Linked DNA regions of Homo sapiens: region 2 is linked to region 1. Evidence: fine-mapped expression QTL. Tissue or cell type: whole blood. Region 1 holds a variant in brackets; the other region holds the start of a gene. All regions are shown on one strand. Distances are from middle to middle.

What was found. PIP is the estimated chance that this variant, and not a neighbour inherited with it, causes the effect.
Region 2: IRS1 starts here. The variant in region 1 is fine-mapped to the expression of IRS1 in whole blood (INTERVAL, PIP 0.99). The same link has a PIP of 0.9 or more in monocytes, monocytes after Pam3CSK4 and monocytes after R848.

The regions. Positions count from the first base shown.
Region 1 is chr2:226,025,891-226,034,244 of GRCh38, reverse strand. No RefSeq gene overlaps it. Among named protein-coding and RNA genes, the nearest start is that of MIR5702, 630 kb to the left of the region's middle. The variant C/G (reference allele first, on the strand shown) is at 3,639.
Region 2 is chr2:226,796,234-226,804,233 of GRCh38, reverse strand. IRS1 (insulin receptor substrate 1) reads left to right here and starts at 4,414. Exons shown (of 2, transcript NM_005544.3): 1 at 4,414-8,000. The coding sequence starts at 5,496. It also overlaps a transcript of RHBDD1 not described here. RefSeq lists silencers at 2,876-3,085, 4,046-4,115, 4,136-4,555, 5,546-5,595 and an enhancer at 6,326-7,275.

The DNA.
Region 1 (8,354 bases):
ACACCATCAAGAAAATAACAAACTAACCCACAAACTGAGAGAAAACATTCATAAATCATATATCCAGTACAGGATTTGTGCCCAGAATATAAAAAGGATTCTAACAGGTGAGCAATAAAAACCAAATAACACAACTAAAAAAATGGTGGAAGGTTTTGAATATTTAGATATTTCTCCTTAGAAGATACACAAATGATTAATAAACACAGGTAAAGATGCACGTGATTGAACATAACAAAATGCAAATCAATACCACAATGTGATATTATTTCTCACTCACCAGAATGGCTATAATCAAAAAGACAGACAATAACAAGTGTTACTGTTTGGAGCAATTATAACTTTCATATGCTTTTGGTAAGAATGTAAAATTGTACAGCCACTTTGGAAAACAATTTGGCAGTTTCTGAAAAATGTAAGCATACCATATGATATAGCAATTCCACACTTAGTTAGGTATCTACCAAAAATAAATGAGAACATGTCTGCACAATGACTTATATGTGAATGTTCATTGCAGCATTAATCACCACGCCCAGAAATGGAAACATTTCTGTTCGTCAACTGATGTTCGTCAACTGATGAATCGATAAATAAAGTATGGTATAGCTATACAATGGAAAACTATTTGGCAATTAAAAGGAACAACATGGACGGACCTCAAAAACATTACTTAGGGCTGGGGCAGGAATGGATAGTGATCATAAATAATCACAATCTTTCTTTATAGAGTGATGAAAACATCTTAAAATGAAACTGTAGTAGTGGTGGCATAACGTAAATAATATATGAACCATTGAATTGAACACTTAAAGTAAGTGAATGTTATGGGATATGACTTATATCTCATTAAAACTCTATGTAAGTAAGCTGTTTGTAAGAACAGACAAGAACATTTATATCTTAAATATATAATGAGTAACTCACAGTATATTTCTTCAATTACTATGGGCATTGCCTTGGCAATTGGACATAACTTAAGAATTGGTCTGAACCAAATATTGTTTTCTATGTAAAATTTACAAGTCCCAAGGTCCATCATAGCATTGAATTTACATATCCAAATAAAATTAAATTTTTGGAGGAGACATTGGACTGATACAAGATATGCTGATCTATGCTTTGGATTTGTCAGTAGGTAGAATATTGACCACGTAAATTCAGTCATCTGTAGTTTTTAATAAAGTTTACTTGAAATGTCAAATAGTTTTAATAAAGTGTTTTCAATATAATTCACCAGTTATTAAATTATCAGACTACTATGGAAAGGAATATATTTAAAAGTGTTACTCAACACACATACACACATATCCTAGCCATAAATGTAAAACAAGTTTTCTTTAGCTTGTCAGTGTGCTGTGGATCTGATAGAGAAAAAATCAGCATAGCAAATGAAGATCGTTTGAACTTCATTTGTGTACATGCAGTGCATTCACTGCCTGGCATTTTTCTTTCTTCTTGACAGAAGCTTTACAGAATAAGAAAAAACGTGGCTTCTTATTAGTCTCTGTTTTTCTCCACTGGAACATGTAATGATAATTCTAAAATTCCTGGTCGCGGTTATACGAATACACCTGCACACAGCTTCTGAGATGTGCTTGCTCTCGCCCTGCTCCATCACCTAGCTGCTCGTGATGCAATTCAGGCTATCCTTAGAAGAAAACCCACTAACAGAGACCACCCCTGGGTGGCAAAACCTGGTGACTCCTGTTAGGATTTGTGGTTCTTTCGGACAGAAAAATGCTCCTTAAACTGAAATCCTCTAGTGTTCAACAAATACAGCTGCACCATCATTTTAGTATTCAGGATGCAAAGTAAGTATCTCCCTAAGCACACAAGTCTATTTGAGGAGCACACATGTACTCATAGACACATTTCTACAGTCATGATCCTCTGCTGCTGCCAGTGTCTCAAGCATCATTCCTTTCCTCTCAGGAGACAAGGGGGACCAGAGAGAGGGAGAGCTGAGATTTCATCCTTTCTCAGTCTTGGTATGCAGGCACAGGCACTATAAGAATGTGGTAGGTTGGCTAAAGCTATTTGTTTGCTAGATTTCTCAGAGTTCAATGAGATCATTTTTGTCATTTTCCCTGTGCTCCCCTGTATTTTCCAAAGATCTGCCAGCTTCCAACAACACTCTCTTTCTTCCCATTGGAAATGGAAACGAGTCCTCTGCAGGAATTTTCCACTTAACAGTTCCCCCTTCCCTAGCTGGGGCCTCAGCGCACCAGCCTGTAATGCTGTATTTCTTTCCACTGCAGTTTGACATTTTTGAGCCAGCACAATGAGTTGTATTCAGTCATTCTAAGTCCCCCTCCTTCTACATTATCTTTTTTTCTTTAATAATGCATACTTTCGAGCAATTTCAGAAAGAGAGCAAAGGCTTTTAAGCAACATTACATTTAATTAGTTATGTCACTGTCATCGAATCACCAGAATCCTTTGAGTCATCCCCGCCACCTTTTCCCCCACCCACACACCTCACCCCATAATTTTCCGGTCTCCCAGCCCCCTTCTCTGTCCTTCTGGTAAGTACATTAAAGACAAACCTCATGGTCCATATACTTTGCTTAAAATTGTTTGCCTTTGCAAATCATTTCCTTTAAATAATATTTACAAACTATATATCATTGCCTGACACGATGATAAGAGGGCACATAGATTGCTTATAATCTCAGCTGTAAACAAGAAACGGGGACGTGAGCTTGGAAATGTGTTCCATGCCCTGTCTGGACGCAGCCGCATTTGCAAACGCGCGCAGCTGAGCCGGAGCTGGGTCGCATCCGCAGCCTCTCTCACAAACACTGCAGCCAGAGACCAAAACGCTCAAGTCCAGGGAGTCTGCAGGGCAATCCCAAGTCCCCGAAGGGGGAAGGGAAGCGGAGGCATTGGGGAAGGGGGGTGTGGGTCAGCAAAAGCTTGCATCCAGAGGAAAACAATGCTCGCCTTCCCGAAAGCAAACGGCAGAACCTGCGAACACAGATGCCTGCGGGATCCGGGCTCCCGTGCGGCCGGGGAGAGGGCGGCGGGTGCAGGGGCAGGGCGGAGCCTCCCCTGTCTGGCCGGGTGGTAGCTTCTCAGACAGCGAGGGCCCAGGGGGTCACGCCAGCACAGTGGAGGGTGTCTCAAAAGGAACTGGGATTCTGCAGAGAGGGGAGGAGGGAGGAAGAGGGGGATTTGTTCAAGCTGGGAGGGTGGGCCTCAGGAAAAAAGAAGAAAAAGAAGAAATAGATTAATGCTTTGCAGGACACCTGGGGTATTTCTTTCAGTGGGTATTACTTCCACTTTTAGGCAGGAACAAGAGCTGGGAGGAAAACAGCAGCAAGGGCTGACAGCTCCAAGGTGATCAAAGGGGACTGCGTGAACGGCTTGCTCTGCCAGCCGTTTATTAGAAAGAGAGGGGTGCTCCTGGGCCACGCTGGCGGGGGAGAGGGATTAAGATCAAATAGAAAGAGATCGGCCTGACTCCTTTATGCAGGAGAAAAATGCGCGCATATATATTTATATATTTATATGTTTACATGTATATTTATATTCAAAGAATGCTGTCCACTACAAGATCCACTCCTTCCCATAGCCCCCCACCCCACCCCCCACACACAGGCGCGCGCTCCTCACACATGTAAAGGAAGGAAATT[C/G]CACCCTTTCTTTCCAAATGTTGTTACTTCTGCTTTCTCAGTGCTTGAAATATCACATGATGAATTATCCACTGGGGGACATTTTTATACTGAGGCACCACCCCCCCCCCCCCTTTGGGGAACGCTAACTTTGTGTGAGTCTGATTTACCTCAGAAATAACGTTTAACGCACTCCTGGGATTTGGAAAGAACCTCTCTTTCTATAGATAACAGGGCAAAGTGTTAAAATGCAGGTCACTGGTGCGAGAGATATCCTGTTGTAAAAACGGTGACCTCCAGAAGTTTTGGGAAGGATGGCAGCGGAGCCCTCTACATGTAGAAAGAACACAGATGTTGCTCTCGCAACAAATGCATGAGAATGGTAGGTAGGCAGCTGCCCAGCATATATAATGCAGTTTCTTCCCTTGTGAGATATGATCTTTATACCTAGAGATGCAATAAAGTTATTAAGGGGCCTGAATGGAATGAGAAAGACCTTGTCATATGATAATGACTTTATTTTGTCTAAGCATCAGTTACTCTCTCCTCTCTCTCTCACAAGACTTTTTATCAGCTACAGCTTTACAAGAAAAAAAAAACAGCAGCAACAAGCAAACTAAATTTTACGCAAATTCACAGTTTGAAATCTCCACACCCTAAATCTTACATTTAATCATAAAGTGTTAAATTTTAATGTATTCTTTTAACACAGCACTAGCATTTTGTCAAAGATAGGCATAGCCAGGAAGTTCAGAAGCTTTTCTTACAGTTAGAACAGGTGTGCTTTGTTTTTCCCTTAAGAAGTCTTTAACTTTACTGTTTTCTCCAATATTAGGGAGGTTTTTTAATATCTATTGTTTATTTTTCCAATTATATAAGAAAATATTTTTATCGTAGAATATTTACATAATGTAGGGCTATACACATTAAACAATGAAAATCTTTTATGAAGTCCCACTTTCCCAAATGATTCCCTTCCCCAGAAGTAAATTCATACTTCCCCACAATAGTATTCATCCAACCCTTATAAAATCCATCCAGCCCTTGTAAATATTTTTATATGCATAGATGTATATATGCAATCATATAAATTTTAGAAACCTACAAATTCACTCATACTATATGTTTTATTCTGTGAAGTGATTTTGTTCACTTACTACACCAAAGAGATCTTTTTTAAAAAATCAAGACCTATAAATCTATCTCATTTTTGACGGGTGCATAACGTTTCAGGATTTATTATTACATTATTGATACATAATGAGGGTATTTCCAGCTTTTTGTTATTATAAATAATACTGAAACTGACATTCTTAGGTATACATCTTTGACCATACATGCTAGTAATTTTATAGGCTAGATTGTACTGAAATCCATAAGTGAAAGGATATATGCATTTTAAATTTATGGATACTACCAAAGTTCTCTCACAAAGAGCAAAAACGATTTATATTCCACCAAGTTGTCTGTGACTAGACTATTGTTTTGCACAGTCTCTCAATCACTATTTGTTATCAATTAAAAAATGTTTTGTCAATATTTTGTAAAAAAAAAAAAACTTGTTTTCTCACTTGCCTTTTTAAATTACTACTGAGGTTGAACAAGTCTTACCTACACTGGACATTTGTGTTGTTTGTTTGTTTGTTCTGAGTTGCCTGTTTACGTATTTGCCCCATTTTTTCTTTGGATCTTTCTTTTTCTTCATGATTCTAAGAAATTCTTTACCTATAATGAACACCTTTGTTTCTTTTGCTTAGTGTAAATGTTTCTCTTAGCCTGTTGTTTATCTTTTAACTTGGAATGTGGAAACTTCATCATAGGGACATTTGAATTTTTGTGTAGCCAAATCTGTCAGCAATTTCTTTTATAGACTCCAGGTTGTGTCCTGATTAAAATTTAATAGAGAACATGTACTTATATCTTATATTCCAGATGGCAGATTAGCTGTCTAAAACTGTTTCTATTTCTTTAAGACCATTCTACATTAAAATAAGTGTACACTGTATCAATTAATCAGTAGGGAACTACATTCATTTGTTCTCTTTACCAAAACACTGAGGACATCTTCCCCTGTAGTAAACTAAGACTTTGCCTGTAGATAAACCCCAAAAATGTCTGTGGATTGTGGAGGGAACGAAAAGCATCAAAATAATGGCTTATTAAATGAATTAACCACAGAAATAGAAGACCAAATACTGCATGAGGGAGCTAAACATTGGGTACATATGGACAAAAGGATAGGAACAATAGACACGAGACTACTAAATGAGGGAGATGGGGGCAGGGAGGTAAGGGCTGAAAAACTACTTATTGTATACTACGCTCACTACCTGGGTGACAGAATTATTTGTACCCCAAACTTCAGCATCACACAATATACCCATGTAAAAAACCTGCACATGAACCCCCTGAATCTAAAATAAAAGTTTAAATTATTTTTAAAAAAGAAAAACAGCTTATTAAATAAAAGTCATCAGAACTCCTGGTTCCATTGGTTTTTAGAAACATGAATATACTCAAGATTGATTTTTTCAAAGGAATCTATGACATAGCCACTCTCAAAAGTTATAAATGTTGGCATCATTCTTCTCTCTCCTAAAGTAGTGACACACATCCTCTCTATAAAACTAGACACAAGGTGTCATTTGATGGAATAGGTAAGTGTTAACAACATGGCTTGCTACCTACCAGGCCTATGGCAGAAATGACCACAGAAACTATTCCCTGGGGAAATTTTTTTAAAATGAAGATTCCTAGCACCATCCCAGACATTCTGAAGAATAGTCTCAGGAATGGAGTGATATGTTTTGGCTGTGTCCCCATTCAAATCTCATCTTGAATTGTAGTTCTGCAATCCTCATGTGTCAAGTGGGGGGCCAGGTGGAGATAACTGAATCATAGGGGCAGTTTCCCCCATACTGTTCTCCAGGTAGTGAATAAGTCTCACGAGAGCTAATGGTTTCATAAAGGGGAGTTCCCCTGCACTAGCTCTCTTGTCTGCCACCATGCAAGATGAACCTTTGCTCCTCATTCGCCTTCTGACATGATTGTGAGGCCTCCCCAGCCATGTGGAACTGTGAGTCAATTAAACCTCTTTCTGTTATAAGTTACCCAGTCTCAGGTAGGCCTTTATTAGCAGCGTGAGAACAGACTAATACATGGGGGCTCTGAGATTTATAGTATTGGGCACTTGCTCATAGAGTAGCACTGGAAACCAACTTCTCCAGTTTATTTAGAACATGTAGTATTCTTTGGTTTCTCTTTGGCATGTTCTCTCTCCCCTCCTTACATAAAATAGATGAATGCATCTTATTGATTTTGCTTCTGAAGTGTCTTTCAATTCATATTATCCTTCCCATTCTATCTACTACTCTCCTATTTTAGGCCTCCATAGTCTCCTTATGAAAAACGGTCTCCTAACTTATTTTCTCAGTCTTTGTTGTTCCTCATCTTGGTATTTTCCAAAGCTTCTTGGCAGATTTATTCATGCTACCAGTACGTGAAAACCTACATCTGAATAGCCACACTCTTTTCACTCATTGAGTAACTTTGTGATTTTTATCTCAGCTGACTTTTCCATATCATCAACATCTATGCTGACCTCCTTTTTCTCCTCGAATTTGTCAGTGCCATGTCACGGCTCAAGCCCTCCGTATTAGTCTGTTCTCACACTGCTATTATAGCAAAGGCATACCCAAGACTTGGGCATTTATAAAGAAAAGAGGATTAATTGACTATTGACTCACAGTTCAGCATGGCTGGGTAGGCCGCAGGAAACCTACAATCATGGTGGAAGGGGAAGCAAACACATCCTTCTTCACATGGTGGCAGAAGAGAGAAGAACCAGTGCTCAGCAAAGGGGGAAGGACCTCATATAACCATCAGATCTCATGATAACTCACTCACTATCATAAGAACAAGATGGGGGAAACCACCCCCATGATTCAATTATCTCCACCTGGTCCTTCCCATAACATGTGGGGATTATGGAACTACAATTCAAGATAAAATTTGGATGGGGACACAGCCAAACCACATCACCCTCCATTTTACTTACCTGCTGTGAAGCCACTGTCATGTTTTTCTCTAGTGACTAACATGCCGTTCCCTTCATTATGGCTCTGACTTTTCAAGATTCAAGTCAAATGCTCTTTCTTCTGTAAATTTCTTCTGCTAATTTGCCCTTCCCTCTTCTGACAGTCTCATATTTTGAATTACTTTCTATTCTGTTATCATTATCAAAGACTCTATTACTGTCTTACATTGTTGTCTCCCACAGTAGGTTGTAAATTCCTCAAAAACAAGATCATTTCTAATTGAACATTTGGGTCATAATACCTAATAGTGTCTGTTACAAATGGTGGAAATGAAATAGATAACTTGAATATATCCAAACAGTCTATCTGAATGGTAACAAAGACTATGCTGTGTGATTCTTGGTTCCTATCACAGAAAGTCTAGAAATAGTTAAAACCAAGATTTTGATTCCATCTGTGTCAAGAATTATAAATAAGTAAGACTTACCAAAATAACAGCATGTCTACTGCTAAACAGCCAAACAAGATGAAGAAATAAATATATATATCCTCTAGAATTACGGAGACAAAATGATGGAATAAGTCAATTCTATTAAAGCTGACTTTTGTCATTTTTAATGTTATGATATTTAAATAATTCACTCTAATATTTCATTGAATGGAATTATATTACAATGTAAAAGGATTCGTAGGTAAAATC
Region 2 (8,000 bases), 770 kb before region 1:
TCCATTTTCAATCACACCTTGGAAAACACTAACACAACTGTTTGATAATAACTCTTCATGCTTACCAGAAAGATTTGATGCCTGTGATTGAAAAGAGAGAAGCCCAAATACAATGAAGCCTCAGTTAAGTAGAATTTTTCTTGCTGTTGTTCTCTCTGTATATGTATATAATACTAAAGTATAAGTGCCTTGCTTGCATGTCACAGCACCAAATTATTGTCTTTCAATTAATCATCAGTCATTAGAACTATGCTACTTACCCAGCAGAATCAGCATCACCTAGAGTATGTTAAAAATGCACTGCCTCAGACTGCCCTTGACCTTCTGCATTTAACCAGAACCTGCATTATAACAAGATCCTCGGGTTTGAGAAGCCCTGATCTAGCCGATTTACAAGCCAAGTGTGACTTTTCAGCTCTCTTTTAATTGGCCTATTTTATATATTTTTAAATAAAACAGATGAAAGATTTTAATTACATGAGAAAACAAAGTTTTTAAGGGAAGAGGCACCTTTCAGATTCCCAAATTGCACTGTCTGTAACTGATAATGTTTATGTCAGAAGGCAGTTGGTTGTTATGTGATCTCATTTGCCCTGTGCCTATTTTTTCCACAAAAGAGATCATAGTGCTCTGCAATTGTGTTCATCTGCCATTTTCGATGTAAGTTTCCTGTGGGCAGCATGTCTTTGATATCTAAATCCTCAGTGTCCAGCCTAGTGCCTAACACAAGTAGGTGTTCCAAAAAACTTGAGTGGGAAAAAATAATTGCCATTTATCTGAGTTATAGCCCATTTCAAGTTCAAGCTTAAGGCTCCTCTCTTCTGTAAAAATTAAGTAGTTATTTCATCCATCATGAAAGTAAATACCACTTGTTATTTGACATCTCTCTCTCTCTCTCTCACACACACACACACACACACACACATTTTAGTCATCAACTATTGTTATTTTGTACTCTCTTATTACCCCATCAAAGCTGTAAGAAGCTGTCTTTTTATCTATTTCATATTGCCTTGCAGAGTAAGCATTCAAATGCTTATTACTATTGAGCCATCTTAAAATAAAAACAGATCTTAAAGTGAGAAAATCCACATTCAATTGTCCTTCAAGCACTGTTCTAAATTGCCAAAATTAATTCTAAGAGACGCCAGTATTTAAATAGCTCCTCCAGTTATGACCCATACATCTTAAGGAAAACATATGTTTTGATACAAAAAGTGTTTTATAATTTTGAAATGTTTAGTTTTACATCCACCCAACTCAAGCACTTTACAGATATATGTAATAATCTATAAATTTTGCATTATTTTCCTGATAGTATCATACATAAACCAATAACTCAATTTTAAAGCTAGTTGTAGACCTATTGCCCCAAAGTGCGTCCATAGCATGTAAACCCTTAACTCCTTGAATTAGGACTGTATTAGTGACATCAACGTAGCTGTTGCAATGTTGTGATGAAATCACTATTTTAGCCCTCTTTTAAAATGAACCTTAGCATATTACACAAATCGGCTCTAACTCTCCTATAGATGGCAGCATTGAGCAACAGATTTTGGTAATAGCTTGTTCTTCTGTTCCGTGAATTTTCAGTGGGGAGTAAATTTTTCATACAGTGTATTTCATTACAATACACCAAAAGACTAATTTAGCTTAGGTGACAGAATAATACCCATACCTGCTCAGCATTACTTCAGTGAGTTCCCACAAACGCGTCTCTTTCTATTCTATATATTACATGAACCAAATGTAAATGAATTTCCAGTTAGCCCATTAATAAAACAATTGTAGAGAACAATTGAATTTACTGTAGTATAATTATAACAAATATTAACCACCTTTAAATTGGTAGTAAAACATCAGCAAGTAGAAAAAATGGCACTAATATCCTATGATCAGTGATTATCTTCCATAGGAAACCCATTGGTCTGAACATAATTTGTCACAGCAGTGAGGCTTATTTCATAATTTTTATCGAATATTTAGCAACTGAAATTGTGTTTTTTAAAGCAGAAATGCTTTAACACTGAGAGATATATTTTTTAAAAGGTTTATTATCATAATTAGCTTTTTATGATCAAAATCCTTCCTATGAAGATAATTGTGAGGTACGTGCAAATAAATTTTCCAACCCTCCCCTCCTTCCAGAAAAGAGTATTTTTCCCCCATAGAGGTACAGTACCTTTATTTAGCTTTTTTTGGGGGGTGGGGGGTGGAGGGACGGAGGTAGGGACAGGGCCATTTGAAAAGTAAATGTCCATGGATTTGATTTGTTGTCTTACAAAATGTTAATTACTCCACTACCCCCATCCCAGCGCTAAACATCAAACCTGTGAAAAGCCCTTTGGCCTTATCTGGATTACATTGTTACTAGTAAACAACCCTTTTATAATCTCTCTTTTTTCTTGTCTAGGGTAAAACCAGGCACACAGTTACACTTTTCCACCAACTTCAGGCTTCTTTATTCTGCACCTCCCTGCCCTACCCCCTGTAAGGCACTCTATACCCCCAGAATTTCGGTCACTGTGAGTGCCGCCTCGCTTCCATTTCCAAATATCTGCTATTAATAGCCTTGCTGTAGTGGGCACGTGTGCCCACATCACCAAGCTGTCAGAGGAAAAGAAGGGAGGGCTTTCAATTCAACATGTGTACTCAAATTATAGATTAACCAGGTTTAGATGAGGCTGCATGACGACCGGGAACAGGAAGGGGAGAGGAGAAACGAGAGGCTCCCAGGCTTGGGTGGGGAGGAGCCCCTCTGCAGATGCCCAATCCCCCTAATTTACGTATCGCACACCCCTGAATGGCGCCTATGGTTCTTTTTCTCCTTCATCATCATCATCTTCTTTTTCTTTTTTTACTACGCTTTGCAACCTACCTTGGTACCCTCAACCCTTCTACCCCCACCTTCCCTCTGCAGTGCAAGGCTTGAAAAACAGGCCATCCCACCAATCAGCAGGCCTCCCCGGGAAACTCGCTCCGCCCCTCAGCCGCATTGGGCCGAGGCGCGCTCCCCCGCGGCCCGCCGGGTCCCAGCCACTGAGCATGCCCAGCGCCTCGACTGCTGAGTGCCCAGCCAGCATCCTGCAGTGCCTGGGAGCCTGAGGCCGAGGAGGGTCCCGGCGTAGTAAAGGGGCGGCAACCCCAAACGGGCCAGGCATCAAAATGAGACAGCATTAAACCGAGTGACATCTCTGTGGGTCCTTAGTGCCAGGCGAGCAAGCAGGGACAAACTGCTTGTTTATAGGTCGGCTTAAAAAATAAAAAAACTCTGGGGAGCGTTTGTTTGTGGGGAGACTGATACCGCAAGGTGACCCTGAAAGGGGCGCTTCAAGTAGACCCAGGCTGCTGATCTGGTCCACTCATGAAGTAACCATTTTCCTGTACAGTTGAGCTGGCACCATCCTTGTTTTCTCCCTGTTATCCTTGTGGTCAAGGTTAAAAACTTATAGGGTGGTTCAATGGGTGTGGGAGCTGTGTGTGAAACAAACATTTCAGCCAATATTTGCACAGTAGGGTTTTGGCCTTATGAACCCTCTGAAGGTCCCTAACAGCTTTTTAAAGTCACGGATAGACTTCGGAATATGATAAGGGACCTCTCATTTCCCCTCCCCCATGCCCTCAGCCTTAGGTGTGAGTCCCCCCGTCACACGGATGGGCAAGGGGAGCAGGAGAAAAGGTGATATTTACATTTTCTCCCTACTTGATCAGCAACTAATTCCACAGCGCCGGACGTGAGACACTTCCTGGGGATCCCTGTTCTCCTTTTGTAGTGACCATAACTGCCCCCAGTCACTGCCCTTGGGCGTCCCTCTGTTCCTTCCAGGTACCTCACGGCAGCAAATCTGGGGATCCCAAGGTGGAAGGCTGGCCCAGAAGTCCTTTAGAAAAACCTTAAAAAATACAGATCCCCTCACCATGGCCTATCGCCCTGAAGCCGAAATCTAGCTTTTAAATTTCCTGGGGGAAACAGCCTTGACTAGAAACCTCCCTCCCGTGGGTCAGTCTTACCTGATAGGTAAGAGGCAGCCCAGCTCCGGCGCCCCCGCCTCCCCCCGGCCTCCCACTCGGGGCTCTGTAGCCGCAGTGCCCCCCCGTGGCCCCCCACCCTCACTCCTGCGTCTTCCCGAGCTCGCCCCCTCCCGTTTTCCCAGACTCCCCTCGTGCTTTCGGGTAGCCACCCAAACACCCCCGCCTGCGCCCGCCGCGGGGATTCCTGCGGGCCGGGGGCGCCCCGGTTGGCGCGCGTGTAGGGAGGCGCTGCGCCGGAGCTGGCGGCCGCGCAGGGGCGCTGTCCTAGCGCTGCGCCGGGGTCGGCGCGGGCGCCGCTGCAGCACGGCTGGGGGGCGGAGAGGGGCGGGCGCGGGGCGGGCTCGGCCCGGAATGTAGAGACCCGGGCGGGAGCCTCCCGGCGGCGGCTGCCCGGCTGCCGAGCGCGGAGGCTCCGTCACGTGTTTTTCTCCTCCGAGTGAGACGGCGGCGCGGTCGGAGGGGGCCGGCGCGCAGAGCCAGACGCCGCCGCTTGTTTTGGTTGGGGCTCTCGGCAACTCTCCGAGGAGGAGGAGGAGGAGGGAGGAGGGGAGAAGTAACTGCAGCGGCAGCGCCTCCCGAGGAACAGGCGTCTTCCCCGAACCCTTCCCAAACCTCCCCCATCCCCTCTCGCCCTTGTCCCCTCCCCTCCTCCCCAGCCGCCTGGAGCGAGGGGCAGGGATGAGTCTGTCCCTCCGGCCGGTCCCCAGCTGCAGTGGCTGCCCGGTATCGTTTCGCATGGAAAAGCCACTTTCTCCACCCGCCGAGATGGGCCCGGATGGGGGCTGCAGAGGACGCGCCCGCGGGCGGCGGCAGCAGCAGCAGCAGCAGCAGCAGCAACAGCAACAGCCGCAGCGCCGCGGTCTCTGCGACTGAGCTGGTATTTGGGCGGCTGGTGGCGGCTGGGACGGTTGGGGGGTGGGAGGAGGCGAAGGAGGAGGGAGAACCCCGTGCAACGTTGGGACTTGGCAACCCGCCTCCCCCTGCCCAAGGATATTTAATTTGCCTCGGGAATCGCTGCTTCCAGAGGGGAACTCAGGAGGGAAGGCGCGCGCGCGCGCGCGCTCCTGGAGGGGCACCGCAGGGACCCCCGACTGTCGCCTCCCTGTGCCGGACTCCAGCCGGGGCGACGAGAGATGCATCTTCGCTCCTTCCTGGTGGCGGCGGCGGCTGAGAGGAGACTTGGCTCTCGGAGGATCGGGGCTGCCCTCACCCCGGACGCACTGCCTCCCCGCCGGGCGTGAAGCGCCCGAAAACTCCGGTCGGGCTCTCTCCTGGGCTCAGCAGCTGCGTCCTCCTTCAGCTGCCCCTCCCCGGCGCGGGGGGCGGCGTGGATTTCAGAGTCGGGGTTTCTGCTGCCTCCAGCCCTGTTTGCATGTGCCGGGCCGCGGCGAGGAGCCTCCGCCCCCCACCCGGTTGTTTTTCGGAGCCTCCCTCTGCTCAGCGTTGGTGGTGGCGGTGGCAGCATGGCGAGCCCTCCGGAGAGCGATGGCTTCTCGGACGTGCGCAAGGTGGGCTACCTGCGCAAACCCAAGAGCATGCACAAACGCTTCTTCGTACTGCGCGCGGCCAGCGAGGCTGGGGGCCCGGCGCGCCTCGAGTACTACGAGAACGAGAAGAAGTGGCGGCACAAGTCGAGCGCCCCCAAACGCTCGATCCCCCTTGAGAGCTGCTTCAACATCAACAAGCGGGCTGACTCCAAGAACAAGCACCTGGTGGCTCTCTACACCCGGGACGAGCACTTTGCCATCGCGGCGGACAGCGAGGCCGAGCAAGACAGCTGGTACCAGGCTCTCCTACAGCTGCACAACCGTGCTAAGGGCCACCACGACGGAGCTGCGGCCCTCGGGGCGGGAGGTGGTGGGGGCAGCTGCAGCGGCAGCTCCGGCCTTGGTGAGGCTGGGGAGGACTTGAGCTACGGTGACGTGCCCCCAGGACCCGCATTCAAAGAGGTCTGGCAAGTGATCCTGAAGCCCAAGGGCCTGGGTCAGACAAAGAACCTGATTGGTATCTACCGCCTTTGCCTGACCAGCAAGACCATCAGCTTCGTGAAGCTGAACTCGGAGGCAGCGGCCGTGGTGCTGCAGCTGATGAACATCAGGCGCTGTGGCCACTCGGAAAACTTCTTCTTCATCGAGGTGGGCCGTTCTGCCGTGACGGGGCCCGGGGAGTTCTGGATGCAGGTGGATGACTCTGTGGTGGCCCAGAACATGCACGAGACCATCCTGGAGGCCATGCGGGCCATGAGTGATGAGTTCCGCCCTCGCAGCAAGAGCCAGTCCTCGTCCAACTGCTCTAACCCCATCAGCGTCCCCCTGCGCCGGCACCATCTCAACAATCCCCCGCCCAGCCAGGTGGGGCTGACCCGCCGATCACGCACTGAGAGCATCACCGCCACCTCCCCGGCCAGCATGGTGGGCGGGAAGCCAGGCTCCTTCCGTGTCCGCGCCTCCAGTGACGGCGAAGGCACCATGTCCCGCCCAGCCTCGGTGGACGGCAGCCCTGTGAGTCCCAGCACCAACAGAACCCACGCCCACCGGCATCGGGGCAGCGCCCGGCTGCACCCCCCGCTCAACCACAGCCGCTCCATCCCCATGCCGGCTTCCCGCTGCTCGCCTTCGGCCACCAGCCCGGTCAGTCTGTCGTCCAGTAGCACCAGTGGCCATGGCTCCACCTCGGATTGTCTCTTCCCACGGCGATCTAGTGCTTCGGTGTCTGGTTCCCCCAGCGATGGCGGTTTCATCTCCTCGGATGAGTATGGCTCCAGTCCCTGCGATTTCCGGAGTTCCTTCCGCAGTGTCACTCCGGATTCCCTGGGCCACACCCCACCAGCCCGCGGTGAGGAGGAGCTAAGCAACTATATCTGCATGGGTGGCAAGGGGCCCTCCACCCTGACCGCCCCCAACGGTCACTACATTTTGTCTCGGGGTGGCAATGGCCACCGCTGCACCCCAGGAACAGGCTTGGGCACGAGTCCAGCCTTGGCTGGGGATGAAGCAGCCAGTGCTGCAGATCTGGATAATCGGTTCCGAAAGAGAACTCACTCGGCAGGCACATCCCCTACCATTACCCACCAGAAGACCCCGTCCCAGTCCTCAGTGGCTTCCATTGAGGAGTACACAGAGATGATGCCTGCCTACCCACCAGGAGGTGGCAGTGGAGGCCGACTGCCGGGACACAGGCACTCCGCCTTCGTGCCCACCCGCTCCTACCCAGAGGAGGGTCTGGAAATGCACCCCTTGGAGCGTCGGGGGGGGCACCACCGCCCAGACAGCTCCACCCTCCACACGGATGATGGCTACATGCCCATGTCCCCAGGGGTGGCCCCAGTGCCCAGTGGCCGAAAGGGCAGTGGAGACTATATGCCCATGAGCCCCAAGAGCGTATCTGCCCCACAGCAGATCATCAATCCCATCAGACGCCATCCCCAGAGAGTGGACCCCAATGGCTACATGATGATGTCCCCCAGCGGTGGCTGCTCTCCTGACATTGGAGGTGGCCCCAGCAGCAGCAGCAGCAGCAGCAACGCCGTCCCTTCCGGGACCAGCTATGGAAAGCTGTGGACAAACGGGGTAGGGGGCCACCACTCTCATGTCTTGCCTCACCCCAAACCCCCAGTGGAGAGCAGCGGTGGTAAGCTCTTACCTTGCACAGGTGACTACATGAACATGTCACCAGTGGGGGACTCCAACACCAGCAGCCCCTCCGACTGCTACTACGGCCCTGAGGACCCCCAGCACAAGCCAGTCCTCTCCTACTACTCATTGCCAAGATCCTTTAAGCACACCCAGCGCCCCGGGGAGCCGGAGGAGGGTGCCCGGCATCAGCACCTCCGCCTTTCCACTAGCTCTGGTCGCCTTCTCTATGCTGCAACAGCAGATGATTCTTCCTCTTCCACCAGCAGCGACAGCCTGGGTGGGGGATACTGCGGGGCTAGGCTGGAGCCCAGCCTTCCACATCCCCACCATCAG